2 separate regions of the Homo sapiens genome follow, and region 2 is linked to region 1. Evidence: fine-mapped expression QTL. A gene starts in region 1. The other region holds a variant in brackets. All regions are shown on one strand. Distances are between the middles of the regions.

Evidence for each region.
Region 2: its variant is fine-mapped to the expression of MAP1LC3A in whole blood (INTERVAL, PIP above 0.99).

The regions. Positions count from the first base shown.
Region 1 is chr20:34,554,574-34,562,902 of GRCh38, forward strand. It overlaps MAP1LC3A (microtubule associated protein 1 light chain 3 alpha), which reads left to right and starts at 4,145. Exons shown (of 4, transcript NM_032514.4): 1 at 4,145-4,335; 2 at 4,635-4,690; 3 at 4,774-4,880; 4 at 5,163-5,772. The coding sequence starts at 4,296. The coding sequence ends at 5,325. PIGU (phosphatidylinositol glycan anchor biosynthesis class U) reads right to left here. Exons shown (of 12, transcript NM_080476.5): 12 at 5,969-6,406. The coding sequence ends at 6,293. RefSeq lists silencers at 3,847-3,936, 4,277-4,326, 5,901-5,950.
Region 2 is chr20:34,607,255-34,615,583 of GRCh38, forward strand. The region is part of intron 7 of PIGU (phosphatidylinositol glycan anchor biosynthesis class U); the gene reads right to left. Among named protein-coding and RNA genes, the nearest start is that of MAP1LC3A, 53 kb to the left of the region's middle. The variant T/C (reference allele first, on the strand shown) is at 3,332.

The DNA.
Region 1 (8,329 bases):
ATGTTGGCCAGGATGGTCTCAATCTCTTAACCTCATGATCCGCCTGCCTTGGCCGCCCAAAGTGCTGGGATTACAGGCATGAGACACCGCGCCCGGCCTGTTTTTGTTTTTTGAGATGGGGTCTCTCGCTCTGTCGCCAGGCTGGAGTGTAGTGACACAATCTTGGCTCACTACAACCTCCACCTCCCTGGTTCAAGCAATTCTCATGCCTCAGCCTCCCACGTAGCTGGACTACAGACACGTGCCACCATACCCAGCTAATTTTTTTGTATTTTGTAATTTTTGTATTTTGTATTTTTTGTATTTTTTTTTTTTGTAGAGATGGGGTTTCACCATATTGCCCAGGCTGGTCTACAACTCCTGGACTCAAGTGATCTGCCTGCCTTGGCCTCCCCAAGTGCTGTGATTACAGGTGTGGGCCACCACACCTGGCCTATTTTTTGTTGTTGTTGTTTTTTGTTTGTTTTCAGCATTTTTTGTTGTTTTTCTGAGAAAGGGCCTCTGTCACTCAAACGATCCTTCCTGAGTAGTTGGGACTATAGGTGTGTGCCACCAAAGCCAGCGAATTTTCTTATTTTTTTTTTTTTTTGAGACAGAGTCTCACTCTTGTCACGCAGGCTGGAGTGCAGTGGCATGATCTTGGCTCACTGAAACCTCTGCCTCCCGGATTCAAGCAATTCTTGTGCCTCAGCCTCCCAAGTAGCTGAGATTACAGAATGCACCACCACACCCAGCTAACTTCTGTATTTTTAGTAGAGACAGGGTTTTGCCATGTTGGCCAGGCTGGTCTCGAACTCCTGGCCTCAAGTGATCTGCCCACCTCAGCCTCCCAAAGTGTTGGGATTACAGGCGTGAGCCACTGTGCCTGGCCTAATTTTCTCATTTTTGTAGAGACGGGGTCTCACTATGTGGCCCAGGCTGGTCTCAAACTTCTGGGCTCAAATGATTTTCCAACCTGGGCCTCCCAAAGTGCTAGGATTACACTATTACTCCTTCTTAAATTTCTTTGAAACTCTGCTCATGGATTTTCTGTATTTATTATCTAAGTAATACATCTATGTAATAAGGCTATAAATCTGATTTTTTTTTTTTTTAAAGAAATGGATCTTATTTTGTCACCGAGGCTGGAATGCAGAGCTGCAATCACAGCTCACTGCAGCCTTGAACTCTTGGGCTCAAGCAATTCTCCAGTCTGGGCCCCCCAAAGTGCTGGGATTACAGGTATGAACCACCACACCTGGCCTGCCATGGCCCCCCTCCCAAGTTTTCTTTCTTTTTTTTTTTTTTTTGATGGAGTCTCGCTCTGTCGCCCAGGCTGGAGTGCAGTGGCGCGATCTCCATTTACTGCAAGCTCCGCCTCCCAGGTTCGAGCCATTCTCCTGCCTCAGCCTCCCGAGTAGCTGGAACTACAGGCGCCCGCCACCACGCCCAGCTAATTTTTTGTATTTTTAGTAGAGACGGGGTTTCACCATGTTAGCCAGGATGGTCTCGATCTCCTGACCTCGTGATCCGCCTGCCTTGGCCTCCCAAAGTGCTGGGATTACAGGCGTGAGCCACTGCGCCCGGCCACCAAGTTTTCTTAGCATATGTATCCTCATTTTTTGTTTGAACTAAATAATTTTTATTTATATATGACTTCATATTTAGAATAGGTTTAAATTTCCACACAGCTGGAGCTTACGCGGCTTTTGTCTGTGGCCAAAGAATATGGTTGAAACTGATTTGATATCTGTTGAGATTTGTCGTGCACCCTAGTAGTTGGGTCATTTTTGTAAATGTTCCTTGTGTGATTGAAAATAATGTGTTGGTCTCACACAGGTCTGAAATTTAAATTTTAAAAGTTAAAAAACTAACTGTCAGGTTTTCTATTGGGGTTCATTGATCTTGATTAGTAACTGTATTAACATCCTCTATGTCCTTTTTTTTTTGGTTGTTTGGTTTATTAGTTACTCAAAGAGGTCTTATGTCTCCCTATGATGGAGGACCTGGCAATTTCTCCTTGTGTTCTTAATATATTTTCAGCCTCTTTTTTTTTTTTTTCGAGACAGAGTCTCACTCTGTTGCCCAGGCTGGAGGGCAGTGGCGCAATCTCAGCTCACTGCAACCTCCGCCTAGCAGGTTCAAGCAATTCTTGTGCCTCAGCCACCTGAGTAGTTGGGATGACAGGCGTGCACCACCACGCCCAGCTAGCTAATCTTTGTATTTTTAGTAGAGACAGAGTTTTGCCATGTTGGCCAGGCTGGTCTTGAATTCCCAGCCTCTAGTGATCCACCCACCTCGGCCTCCCAAAGTGCTGGGATTACTGGCATGAGCCACTGCGCCTGGCCTATTTTCAGCCTTAAAAACAAAAACCCTGGAACATAGAAGTTCAGAACTTTCCTCTCTTCACAGAGTTCCTCCTCGCATCATTTCATGTTGATCCTCTTATCCCCAGTGTCTTCTGCCTGAAGGCCTATTTTGTCTGAGTTTTCTATAGGTACATCTTTTGGTTAGTTTTTCTCTAGTACACCTTTTCCCATCGTTTTACTTTTTGGTGCCCTTAGGTTTTAAATTTCCTCTTGTAAATAGCATAGAGCTGCATCTTATTTTTTCTTGGCCAATCTGGTCATCTGTGTTTTAAGAGGTGAATGTAAACCACATTTTCTACCTCTGGTTTTGTACTATATATTTACCATCCCTTTTACTTTGCTTCCTTTTTCTCCCTTTCTGCCTTCCATTATAGTTTTAATACCCATCACTACCCTTTTCTCTGCATTGGCAGTTATAGTTCCGTTTGTATTCTTTTGGTGATCCTCTTAAATATCTGAAATACACACCTGACTTTACAAAGCCAGACAATGCTCAGTCTCTTTAACCCCCTCTCAAATTGCCCTCTCAGTCTTCCATGTTCTTGTGTCTCATGCATCTTGTTTCTGTGGCCCACAAATTAATCATTATTATTCATATTGCATATTAAATGCTTGTTTAGATTCACATGTTTACCAATTTGCTCACCATTTTTCCATCTAATTTCTTCCTTTTGGGTTCCATGTCCTTGTTACTAAACTACATTCTTTAAAAATTATTTCGGCGGCCAGGCGTGGTGGCTCACACCTGTAATCCCAGCACTTTGGGAGGCCGAGGCGAGTGGATCACGAGGTCAGGAGATCGAGACCATCCTGGCCAACATGGTGAAACTCCATCTCTACTAAAAATACAATAATTAGCTGGGGGTGGTGGCAGGCGCCTGTAATCCCAGCTACTGAGGAGGCTGACTGAGGCAGGAGAATCGCTTGAACCCGGGAGGCAGAGGTTGCAGTGAGCTGAGATCGCACCACTGCACCCCAGCCTGGCGACAGAACGAGACTTCGTCCCCCTCCCCCCTCCCCCAAAAAAATGTTGATCTTCAGTCTGCGCATTCTGCTCTGGATTTTAAGCATCATTTCTGGCAGCTCTTTTTCAGGAACTGTCTCTGCAGGTCTTTCAGTGTTCGCCTCTGGAGCTCTGCTCGGGCCCGCGAGTTCTCCTGGCGTTGCCATCTGTGCCCTTTTCCTTATTCCCCATCACCTGTCTCTCTGGTGAGCTGCTTCCGATCAGCCTCCAGGTCCACGATTTCTCTTCTGTTGTCCTTTTCTGCCTTCTCACCTCATCCTCTGAGACCTGAATTTCGATGGCTCTACTTTTCAATTATATTATTCTTTTTCAAACCTGGGCGTTCATTTCTAGCATCCTGTTCTATCCTGTGTCTGACTGTGCCTCCCGCACCTTCTCCCTTCTCTCGCCCTAAGCCCCGTGAAGGCGCCGGGCCTTTGGCTCCGGCTGTTTCCCACGGCGCCCAGAACCGCGTCAGTCCTGACACAGACTCGGTGAGGGCGGGAAGTGGTGCCGTGGGGCTGCAGCCTGGCCCGCCCGCTCCATCGGCCTAGGGCGGCCCCACCGCCCTCCGGGCCTTACCTTGAGTTCGGGCTGCGGGAGAAGCTCCCGCGCTGCCCATGACGTCACGGGACTGTGACGCGCCCAGAAGCCCCGCCCCTCGCGTCCCGGTCCGCGGACCCAGGCTCTCTGCGCCGTGACGTCACGGGTCCGGGCGGGCGGGTTGTGCGTCGGCCCAATGGGAGCGGCGCACTGGCCTCCCCTTTAAGGAATGTTGTGACCTGACGTCACCGGGCGAGTTACCTCCCGCAGCCGCAGCCGCCGTGCTCAGCGCGAGCCCCGGAGCCCTTGAGCGCGAGGCGCGGAGCCCCCGGAGCCCCCAAACCGCAGACACATCCCCGCGCCCCAGAGCCCCGGCCTGCGCGCCCAGCCGGGCCCGCGCGATGCCCTCAGACCGGCCTTTCAAGCAGCGGCGGAGCTTCGGTGAGGCCCGGCAGGCGAGCTGCGAGCTCTGGGGCAGGGGTGCCGGCCGACCCCGACTGCCGCAGGTGACGTCAGCCCCGTGACGTCAGGCTCTGGCTGGACCCTCGGGCTGGGACCAGCTCCGGCCTGGGCGGGGGCTGCCCGCTTCCCCACCGCGATAGGTGCCAGGGGCTGTGGGGCCTGATGGCCCCGGGGGTGGGGGCTGGAGCTGGGGCGTGGCCGGGGGCCGCCCCTCCGGGACAGGCGGGGCGGACCTGGGCCGGCCCGACCCGGCCTCACGGTCTGGCCGCTGTCCGCAGCCGACCGCTGTAAGGAGGTACAGCAGATCCGCGACCAGCACCCCAGCAAAATCCCGGTGAGTCCCGCACCCCCAGCCCTGCCCCGCCCCCGCCTCGCGCGTTCCCGACACGACCCCCTGCCCGCCCGCCCTGCTCCCAGGTGATCATCGAGCGCTACAAGGGTGAGAAGCAGCTGCCCGTCCTGGACAAGACCAAGTTTTTGGTCCCGGACCATGTCAACATGAGCGAGTTGGTCAAGATCATCCGGTGCGTGGGCAGCCGCCGCCAGGAGGTGGCTAGGGTCGGGAGGGGAGCCGGGTTCCCGCCGAGAAGGGGTGGGAGTGGGGTCAGGGGTGATGGGACCGGGCGGTGGGCCCCTGTTCTGGGGTGGCTGGAAAGGTCAAGGTCGGGGCTGCAGTCGGTGTTGGGTCAGAGGTGACAGCTGGGGTGAGAATGGGTGTGAAAGGCTGGGAATCATTCTGGGGGTCAGGGCTATGTCCGTCCCGCAGCCAAGCCCCTCACAGCTGCATACTCTCCCGCCGGCTGCAGGCGCCGCCTGCAGCTGAACCCCACGCAGGCCTTCTTCCTGCTGGTGAACCAGCACAGCATGGTGAGTGTGTCCACGCCCATCGCGGACATCTACGAGCAGGAGAAAGACGAGGACGGCTTCCTCTATATGGTCTACGCCTCCCAGGAAACCTTCGGCTTCTGAGCCAGCAGTAGGGGGGCTCGGCCTGGGAGTCGGGCGGCCCCGGTCAGGCCCTGCCCAGAGAGCTCCTGGTTCCTGAACTGAGCTGCCTCTACCGTGGTGGGCTGGGCAGGCATGTGCCCCCCTAGTCAGAGGGCACCAACCCACCTACTCTGCCCCTGGGTGGATCCTGGGCCGGTCGTGTTAGGGTTGTCCCTCTGGGTGCTGGCTGGTGGGATGGGGGAGGGTGGGGAGCAGCTCCCAGCACCCCTGCTGTGTGGTTCATCTTTTTTTTAGGCCCCTGCCTGTCTGCCCATCTGCCCCTCACCCACCCGAGGCTCTGCCCACCGCCTGGACCTGCCCACCCCTGAAAGACTGGCCCCTGGCTCCCCGCCCCTCGGTCTCCACGTGGTGTATGGATCTGTGGTCATTGTCCCTCTGCAGAATAAAGATTGCTCAGGCCTGCCTGGCCCTGTGCCTCCAGCCGCTTGCTTGGGAGTGGGGAGGGTGCTGGTGGGGCTGCCCGCACCATCCCCGGGCTCTGGCGCACAGACTTGTGTTCTGTGGCCGCGGTGCTCGCTCTGGAAACCCACACCTGTGTGTAGTGTTCCAGAACATTATTAGGGGCCACCCCCTCTAGGAGTGCAATGCAGATGTGGTCTCAGGGTAGACTTCATAACAAAAAACATTTATTAAGTAGCCACAATCTAACAAGCCCTGCTCACCTGCCTCTTCTCCTTCCTGTCTGGGAGGGGGCTCCTTGGTGTGCAGAGCCACAAGGTGGGGGTCCAAGTTGGGGAGCTCCCAGTTCTTCCCCATAGGCCTTGCTGTCAGTCAGCCATGGGTCCCTTTTGGTACCAGAGACTTGTGACCCTGGACTCGAACCTCTTCTGCCCAAGCACTCGCCTGCTGGCAACTCTGGCTGGAGGGCTTGGCCCAGCTTCTGGCCCCACAGCCCCCTGAGGTCCATGCAGCCCTGTGCCAGCCAGGCCTACTTGAGCACGAGCATGGCCTCTGTGCCATCCTTGGCGGTCAAGTAGAGGCCATGTGTGAGGTAGTACTCCCGCCGCAGGAAGGCATAGAAGTAATCAGAGATGAGCAGGATCTGGGGGGAGAGAGAGGGTGTGAGGCGCTGCTGGGTACCTCCCCCTAAACCCAGGATCCCTGAACTGCTGGCAGGTGTTGTTGGAAGACAGGAACGCCCCTGCCTGGCTCTGGATCACAATCACTGGAGAGGCCCTCCTCAGGGCCCCCACCTCAGGGCCCATAATTGACCCTGCAAGGTCTGGCCTCTCAGAAGCTGCCTGGACTCCCCCTGCCCCCACCCATGGTCTACACCTCCATCCCAGGCTCTGGCCTCGAATGCCAGCCTGGTGCCTGTGCAACCAGAGGCCTCTGCCCCATCCTCCCACAGCCACTTCCATCCCAGCCAGGTCCACATCAAACTCCTCACCTTCCCTCTGTCAAATACACTTCTCCCACTCAGCATCCATGCCCCCATCTTCCAGCCAGGTGCCCAGGCCACAAAATTGCCCTGACACTTCTCTCATACATCGAGCCACCATGACCTGTCAATTCCCCCTAAACTCAAATCCACCCTTTGGATCCATCCCCACAGTCACTACTCTGGACAGAGCCACTGTCATCTCATCTCCTAAACAACAGCAAAGCTTGGTCCTTGGGCTCCCTGCTCTCAAACCCGTGCCCACCCCATTCTCCCTGGCAGCCAGAGGGAGCTTTTCAAAACCCACATCTGATGGTGTTACTTCCAGCCTTCAAATCCTCCAAAGGCTTCCCAAGCCTTAGGGCAAAGCTCGAACTCCCTCGTGCTCTGAGACCTTGCTAGGGTCCCTGTCCGCCCTCTCCCGGCTCCACCTCACCCCACGGCAGGATCTTTACTGTTTCTTCTGCCTGGAATGTTCTCTCCCCGTTCATCTAGTTGACAGCTGCTTACTCTTCAGGGCTCAGGAAGGATCACTTGCCCCCCAGATTAGTTCTTGGCCCCACTAATCTCTACTCGATAACAGACTCATCGAAAGTGTAATTTTCCATTCAGCTGACAGCCTGACTGTGCCTCCTCCCCTGGCCCGGGGCCTCCATCAGGGCAGGGTCTTCGAATGGTTCTGTCACTATGGTATTTCTGTGCCCAGCTCAGTCTGTCTGTCCCATTCTGGGCCACACACAGAAGAATCAAAGGGAGCCTAGAAGCTCAGCCCACTGTCTCTTCAAGGAGGCCCAGAAAGGAATAGGGATTTGCCAAGGGCCCTATACACCAGACCCGGAGTCTGCAATCCCAGTCAGCCCAAGCTTCCCAAGACCACTGGTCCCTGGAGCAGGTTGGGCAGGGCCCAGCCTCAGAGAAGGATGAGGGGACAGGGGCTCACACTACAGACACCGCAGCTCTCAGGCACCTGGAGGCCTCAGAGGATTGGCACCAACCACCTGGCACAGATGGGGAGACTGAGGCACAGAGCACTTGGCTATGGTCTTGGGGCAAGACAGGTTGAGCTAAGCCTGGGATCTAGACCTCCAGACCCTGTCCTGGGCAGCTTCTCACTGACCTGAAGGTAACACAACAGCAGCTAAGGAGAGATCAGAGGCGCCTGGAGGAGTTCAGGAAGGTGTCCTGTCACCAGCAGCTCTGATGGCCTCAGGACAAGTACCTGCCATTCTATCACCACAGAAGCCCATCTGGAAGGTTGAACAATCCTCATCTTAAACAGATGGGGAAACTGAGACTCAAAGGGTTCAATGGTTGGCCTAAGGCTACACCTGGAGCACTGGACTAATGGCCATGGACCCAGAAAGGTGGTCTGCCTGGGGCCCAGATCACTGATGAGCACGAGATTGGTCACAGCGTCAGCAAAGCAGACAGAGCTCAGGCAGCCCCCGAGGCCCTGCCCCCAGCTGCCCAGCTGGCAGCTCCAGGCTGGCCCACTGGGGGGCAGTGATCACAGCAAAGGCTGACCTCATACCCTGCAGCCCTTTCTCACCCAGGCCCGAGATGCCATCTGGGCAGGAGGAGCCC
Region 2 (8,329 bases), 53 kb after region 1:
TGGACCCCTGACCTAAAGTGAGAACTTCACATCCCTGTTGCCTTTTCCAAAACCACCCTGGCCTGGCCTGCCCCGCATCCTGTACTCATAAAAACCCCAGGCTCCACTGGCAGTGGAGTGGCAGAGAGGGAGAGAGAAGCAGCAGCCAGAAGTCAGAGGGAAGCAGCTTGATTTCAGACGGACACCTTGATGGCGGGACCTCGGAGAAGAGTTCAGCCAGGAATGACCGAACTGAGGGGAAGACCACCTTCCTGCTCCATCCCCTTTCCAGCTCTCCATCCCATTGACAGCCACTTTCATCAGCAATAAAATCCCCTGCATTTACCATCTCCAATTCATTTGTGCAACCTGATACCTCCTGGATGCCAAACAAGAGGTTGGGATACAGAGGGCTGTCATACTGAGATGTGAAATGCTTAAGCCATCAGAGGATGGCAAAGCTGAAAGAGCACAGTGTAACAAACAACTTCTGTGGCTCCAGGGATCATGAGTACCCCACTAGACATTGCTGTGGGACTGCACAGAGTTGTGCACAGAGTCTGTGCCATGGGACTGCACAGAGTTGTGCCCAGACTGGTCTTAAACTCCTGGGATCAAGTGATCCTCCTGCCTCAGCCTCCCTAAGTGCTGGGACTATAGGTGTGAGCCACTGCACCCAGCTATAATTCCTTTTTAAAAGGCAGAGTAATTGCTTAGTTCTTTCCTTTTAATTATTTACTTTCAGAGTGAGAAACTGGTAAAATAGCCACATCTGATGATGGTCTATGTATTTTTTCTCTTCTTGCCCTTTTAGTGAGCATCACTATGGAGACATGACTTTTTTTTTTTTTTTTTTTTGAGACAAGAATCTTGCACTGTGGCCCAGGCTGGAGTGCAGTGGTGCGATCTCGGCTCACTGCAACCTCTGCCTCCCAGGTTCAAGCGATTCTCGTGCCTCAGCCTCCCAAGTAGCTGGCATTACAGGCACCCACCACCATGCCTGGCTCATTTTGTATTTTCAGTAGAGAAGGAGTTTCACCATGTTGTCCAGGCTGGTCTGGAACTACTGACTTCAAGTGATCCACCTGCCTTGGCCTCCCAAAGTGCTGGGAATATAGGCGTGAGCCACCGTGCCCAGCCAAACACATGGATTTTTATCCAGTGTTTTATAATTACTTGTTGTCATTCTTTTGATGCTCAGAAATTCCCAAATTTGGGTGGTATGAGCCCCTTTCAGCTGGTACCAGTGTTTTTCTGACTTAGTCCTGTTAAGACTTTGAGGACTATTTTGCTTTTTTTTGTTGTTGTAACAAGATGTCCCAGTCAAGCTGTGCTCTTACATACTACATTAGACAACCTTTCCTAGAGGGCTATGCCTACAGAGGGCTTGAAAAAAACTCAGAGAAAAAGATAATGTCAAGAGCAGATGTGTCAGCTCCTAGAGGTTATCAAATCCATTTTGATTTGGAAGTAGAAAGCATTCTGAAGCCGATCAGGGTACAGCCACTCACTCTGGCACTTACAGCTTTGCTACAACTCCCCAGCAAGTGGCCATTCAGCCTCTGGCCTAAACACCATGATTCACAGGGAACTGACCTCACTTAGGACATCTCATTCTGTCACAGAACTACCTTATACTAAGCTTCTTGTACCACCTAACCATTAGTTCTAGCTTCTCTCCTTGGAGCCTATGGATCCCTGTGAAACTCAACTCTAAAGGGTCCACTTAGTAGTCTGGCAGAAACTCAGCCCTAAAGAATAATTTTAGGCTGGTTGTGGTGGCTCAGCCTAATCCCAGCACTTTGGGAGGCTGAGGCGGGAGGATTGCTGTAGCTCAAGAATTCAAGACCAGCCCGGGCAACAAAGTGAGACCCTGTCTCTAAAAAAAAACCAACCAACCAACCAAACAAACAAAAAACAAAAAACAAGCCAGCCATGGTGGCACATGACTGTAGTCCCAGCTACTCAGTAGGCTGAGGCAGGGGGACTGCTTGAACCCAGGAGGTCTAGGCTGCAGTGAGCCATGTTCACAGCACTGCACTCCAACCTAGTTGACAGAGTAAGACCCTGTTACAAAACAAAAAAGAATATTTCCTCTTCTGTTTCCACCTTCACTTTTTTTCACCTTTTTTGTTTTTTTTTTGTTTTTGAGATAGAGTCTCACTCTGTCACCCAGGCTTGAGTGCAGTGGCGCAATCTCGGCTCACTGCAACCTCCACCTTCCGCGTTCAAGCAATTCTCTTGCCTCAGCCTCCTGAGTAGCTAGGACTGCAGGCACATGTCACCATGCCTAGCTAATTTTTGTACTTTTAGTAGAGACGCGGTTTCACTATGTTGGCCAGGCTTGTCTCGAACTCCTAACCTCAGGTGATCCACCCACCTTGGCCTCCCAAAGTGCTGGGATTACAGACATGAGCCATTACACCTGGCTCCTCCTTCATATTTAAACAGATGGTTTTGTTTCCTGGATGTGACTACACTGATCTTCAAATACCCTACCATGACCCACAAGGCCCAGGTGATATAATTTGGCTGTGTCCCCATTCAAATCTCATCTTGAATTGTTGTTCCCATAATCCCCTCATGTCATGAGAGGGACCCGGTGGGAGGTAATTGAATCATGGGGATGGTTACCCCCAATGCTGCTGTTCTCCTGATAGTGAGTGAGTTCTCACAGGATCTGATGGTTTTATAAGGGTCTTTTCCCTCTTTGCTTGGCACCTCTCCTTCCTGCCATCATGTGAAGGTGGACGTGTTTGCTTCCCCTTCGGCTATATTTGTAAGTTTCCTGAGGCCTCCCCAGCCATGTGGAACTGTGAGTCAATTAAACCTCTTTCCTTTGTAAATTACCAAGTCTCAATATCATACTGAATGGACAAAAGCTGGAAGCATTCCCTTTGAAAACTGGCACAAGACAAGGATGCCCTCTCTTACCACTCCTATTCAACATAGTATTAGAAGTTCTGGCCAGAGCAATCAGGCAAGAGAAAGAAATAAAGCGTATTCAAATAGGAAAAGAGGAAGTCAAATTGTCTCTGTTTGCAGATGACATGAGTGTATATTTAGAAAACCCCACCGTCTCAGCCCAAAAACTCCTTAAGCTCATAAACAACTTCAACAAAGTCTCAGGATACAAAATCAATGTGCAAAAATCACAAGCATTCCTATATACCAATTATAGACAAGCAAAGCGCCAAATCATGAGTGAACGCCCATTCACAATTGCTACAATGAGAATAAAATATCTAAGAATACAACTTACAAGGGATGTGAAGGACCTCTTCAAGGAGGACTGCAAACCACTGCTCAAGGAAATAAGAGAGGACACAAACAAATGGAAAAAAATTCCTTG[T/C]TCATGGATAGGAAGAATCAATATCATGAAAATGGTCATACTGCCCAAAGTAATTTATAGATTCAATGCTATTCCCATCAAGCTACCATTGACTTTCTTCACAGAACTAGAAAAAACTACTTTAAATTTCATATGGAACCCCAAAAGAGCCTGTGTAGCCAAGACAATCCTAAGCAAAAAGAACAAAGTTGGAGGCAACAAGCTACCTGACTTCAAACGATACTGCAAGGCTACAGCACCCAAAACAGCATGCTACTGCTACCAAAACAGAGATATAGACCAATGGAACAGAACAGAGGCCTCAGAAATAATACCACACATCTACAACCACCTGATCTTTGATAAACCTGACAAAAACAAGCAATGGGGAAAGGATTCCCTATTTAATAAATGGTGCTGGGGAAACTGGCTAGCCATACGCAGAAAACAGAAACTGGACCCCTTTGTTACACCTTATACAAAAATTAACTCCAGATGGATTAAAGACTTATACGTAAAACCTAAAACCATAAACCCTAGAAGAAAACCTAGGCAGTACCATTCAGGACATAGGCATGGGCAAAGACTTCATGACTAAAACACCAAAAGCAATTGCAACGAAAGCCAAAATTGACAAATGGGATCTAATTAAACTAAAGAGCTTCTGCACAGCAAAAGAAACTATCATCAGAGTGAACAGGCAACCTACAGAATGGGAGAAAATTTTTGCAATCTATCCATCTGACAAAGGTCTAATATCCAGAATCTACAAGGAACTTAAATTTACAAGAAAAAAAACAGGCCAGGTGCGGTGGCTTATGCCTGTAATCTCAGCACTTTGGGAGGCTGAGGCAGGCAGATCATGAGGTCAGGAGATTGAGACCATCCTGGCTAACATGGTGAAACCCCGTCTCTACTAAAAATACAAAAAATGAGCCAGGCATGGTGGCACGTGCCTGCAGTCCCAGCTACTTGGGAGGCTGAGGCAGGAGAATCGCTTGAACCTGGGAGGCAGAGGTTGCAGTGAGCTGAGATTGTGTCACTGCACTCCAGCCTGGGCAACAGAGCAAGACTCAAGTCTCAGAAAAAAAAAAAAAAAAAGACAAAAAAAAAAAAACCAAACATCAAAAAGTGGGCAAAGGATATGAACAGACACTTCTCAAAAGAAGAGATTTATGTGGCCAAGAAACATGAAAAAAGCTCATCATCACTGGTCATTAGAGACATGCAAATCAAAACCACAATAAGATACCATCTCACGCCAGCTGGAATGGCGATCATTAAAGTCTGGAAAAACAGATGCTGGCAAGGATGCGGAAAAATAGGAATGCTTTTACATTTTTGGTGGGAATGTAAATTAGTTCAACCATTGTGGAAGACAGTGTGGCGATTCCTCAAGGATTAGAGCCAGAAATACCATTTGACCCAGCAATCCCATTACTGGATATATACCCAAAGGATTATAAAGCATTCTACTATAAAGATATATGCACACGTATGTTTACTGCAGCACTACTTACAATAGCAAAGACTTAGAACCAACCCAAATGCCCAGCAATGAGACTGGATAAAGAAAATGTGGCATATATACACCATGGAATACTATGCAGCCATAAAAAAGGAGTTCACGTCCTTTGCAGGGACATGGATGAAGCTGGAAACCATCATCCTTAGCAAACTAACACAGGAACCGAAAACCAAACATCGCATGTTCTTACTCATAAGTGGGAGTTGAACAATGGGAACACATGGACACAGGGAGGTGAACATCACACACTGGGGCCTGTCATGGGGTGGGGGACAAGGTGTGGGAGAGCGTTAGGACAAATACCTAATGCATGTGGGGCTTAAAACCTAGATGATGGGTTGATACGTGCAGCACACCATGGCACATTACATAGGTTTGTTATACCTATGTAACAAACCTGCGCATTCAGCACATGTATTCCAGAACTTAAAGTAAAATTTAAAAAAAAATTATTTCATGTACCATCAGCAAAAACAAATAAATAAATAAATAACCAAGTCTCGGGCAGTTCTTTTTCTTTCCTTTTCTTTTTTTTTTTTTTCTTTTTTTGAGACAGAGTGTCACTTCATCACCCAGGCTGGAATGCGGTGGTGCGATCTAGGCTCCTGCAACCTCTGCCTCTCGGGTTCAAGCAATGTTCCTGCCTCTGCCTCCCGAGTAGCTGGAATTACAGGAACACTCCCCCATGTCTGGCTAATTTTTGTAGTTTTAGTAGAGACAAGGTTTCGTCATGTTGGCCAGGCTGGTCTCAAACTCCTGACCTCAAGTGGTCCACTTGCCTCAGCCTCCCAAAGTACTGAGATTACAGGTGTAAGCTACCACGCCTGGCTCAGGCAGTTCATAGCAGCGTAAGAATGGACTAATACACCAGGCTACTTCATATATTTATAAAAAATATACAAATATAGTAGGAAATGGAGTTTTAATTTCTGCATAAATGGGATCCTGAAGTTCATCTCAAACTCCTTCCGCTCCTGTCCCCCACATACAGACGGTTACCAAGCACAGCCAATTCTACCTCCTAGAATTCCCCTGCATCTAGTCTCTCATCTCTCCATCTCCTCTGACACTGGTTTGGGCCCCCAGTTTACCCCTCTGACTTGATCTAGTACAATGTTCTAAGCTTTCCCAACTTCAGCTCTTCCTACTCCCATCTACCCGACAAGCTGCTGCCAAAGCAATCTTCCTGGAGCACTCACCTGCTCAGCATCCTTCAATTGCTTTATGTCTGCAGTCTGGCATAGTATCTAGCACACTATAGGTACTTAGTAAATATTGGTAGAGGAGCTGCTTGACTTAATGAGTCAGTTGTACTGTCCACTAGTGTCAGGAGGAAATTTCCTTTAGTTTTAAACAAAAGTTGTTTTATATAAAGTGGTGCATAGAGATTGGCTTAAGAAACCATTTTTATCTTCTTTTATTTACTTATTCATTTTTTGCAGGTTGGACAAGCTCAGAAACCATTTTTAAATTTCTGGTCCATCCATGTGTATGAATATACTATATTATTTATTTGATACATAGTTGTATAAAAAGTCTGGCTATATATATTCTTAGTGCTTAGACTTTCTAAAGAATAAGCCATAAATAGGAAATAAAAAAGAAAATACAAGCAGCACATTGTTATGTGGAAAAATGCTTCAACTCAGCAAGAATACAGAAAGAAAATCAAAGCAAAATAACTTCACTGTATGGTGACACATCTACTGAACTGGCAATCATAAATCAAACTTGAAAAGTCAGTGCTGGCAGATGAGGAGGTAAGTGGTCCACTTCTCTTTAGATACTGATGGTGGCACTGCAAACTGGCTCAGGCTTTCTGGTGAACAATCTGGTATAATTGCCTAATAAGAACAATACGACTTTTCACCTTGGGTCCAGTGATTTAGCTAAAGCAACATACTTGAAGAAAATAATTTCAAGCTGGGCACAGTGGCTCACACCTGTAATCCCAGCACTTTGGGAGGCCAAGGCAGAAGGATCGCTTGAACCTAGGAGTTTGAGAGCAGCCTGAGCAACATGGCAAAGCCCTGTCTCTACAAAAAAATACAAAAATTAGCTGGGTGTGGTGGTGCATGCCTGCAGTCCCAGTTACTTGGGAGGGTGAGGTGAAAGGATTGCTTGTGCCCGGGAGGTTGAGGGTGCAGTGAACCGTGACTGCGGCACTGCACATCCCATCCTGGGCAACAGAGTGAGACACTGTCTCAAAAATAAGAAAAAGAAAAAGAAAACAAATAAAAACAAATTTCTGGCTGGGTGAAGTGGCTCATTCCTATAAACCTAGCACTTTGGGAGACCAAAGTGGGTGGGTGGATGGATTGCGTGAACCCAAGAATTCGAGACCAGTCTGGGCAACATGGCGAAACCCCATCTCTACAAAAAATTAGCCGGGTGTGGTGGCACACACCTGTAGTCCCAGTTACTCAGGAGACTAAGGTGAGACGATCGATTGAGCCTGGGAGATGGAGGCTGCAGTGAGCTGAGATTGTGCCACTGCACTCCAGCCTGGGTGACAGAGCAAGGACCTGCTCTCAAAAAAAAAAAAAAAAAATTTCTACGTTATTTATATTAGTGACAATATAAATGACATATCTCAAACATAAATAAAGACATATCTCAAATTCCCCAAATAAGAAAAAGATCAAGCAAACCATGAATCATTGTCTGCATCAACACAATATTATAAAATCACTTAAAATAACATGCATATGGCCTATTTCAATAAATGGAATACACACTCAGCTTTAGCAGTGCTTGTGATTAAGAAAGGCTCTGAAATCAGACATTTCTGGCACTGCCACCTGTACACTTTCAAGAAACATTTATCTTGTAAGAATGGATTTGGACCATGTGGGGCCTGCATGCAGTTACTTCCTCTTGAAGAAACATGTATGTACTATTCTCATTTGAGTAGAACAAGATGATTAGAGAGCACGCTCTGGCATCAGATGGCCATGGTTCATATCTTAGCAATGTCATTCGCTGGTCCTGTGACCTTAAGTGACTTAACCTCCCAACATTCTAGTTTCAATTCATTTGTCTAATATGGCTAACACTAGACTAATATTTGGCTAATAATATGACCTACTCCATAAAGTTCTTATGAGGTTAAAATGAGACGATGCCTACAGAGTGCTTAGCATGGTGCCTGACATGTAATCCATTCTCAGTAAATGTCAGCAATTTGCATTCTTCAATTAATGTTTATTGATCAGCCACTATGTTCCAAGCATTGTTTCAGATGCACATACTCCATTTAAGTCCTATAAGAATCTTACAAGGTGAGTGTTATTATAAAGAAAAGTTAAAGAAATGAGCTCAGAGGGGATCACTAGTTGAGAAAAGAAAACTGCAAGATAGTTGCGTTTGCAAATATGTAAAATAAAATGCACTTATACATTCCCAAGGATATGCATATAGTAGTGCCCCCCTTATCTGAGGTTTCACTTTTCATGGTTTCAGTTACCTGTTGTCAACTGTGGTCCTTAAAT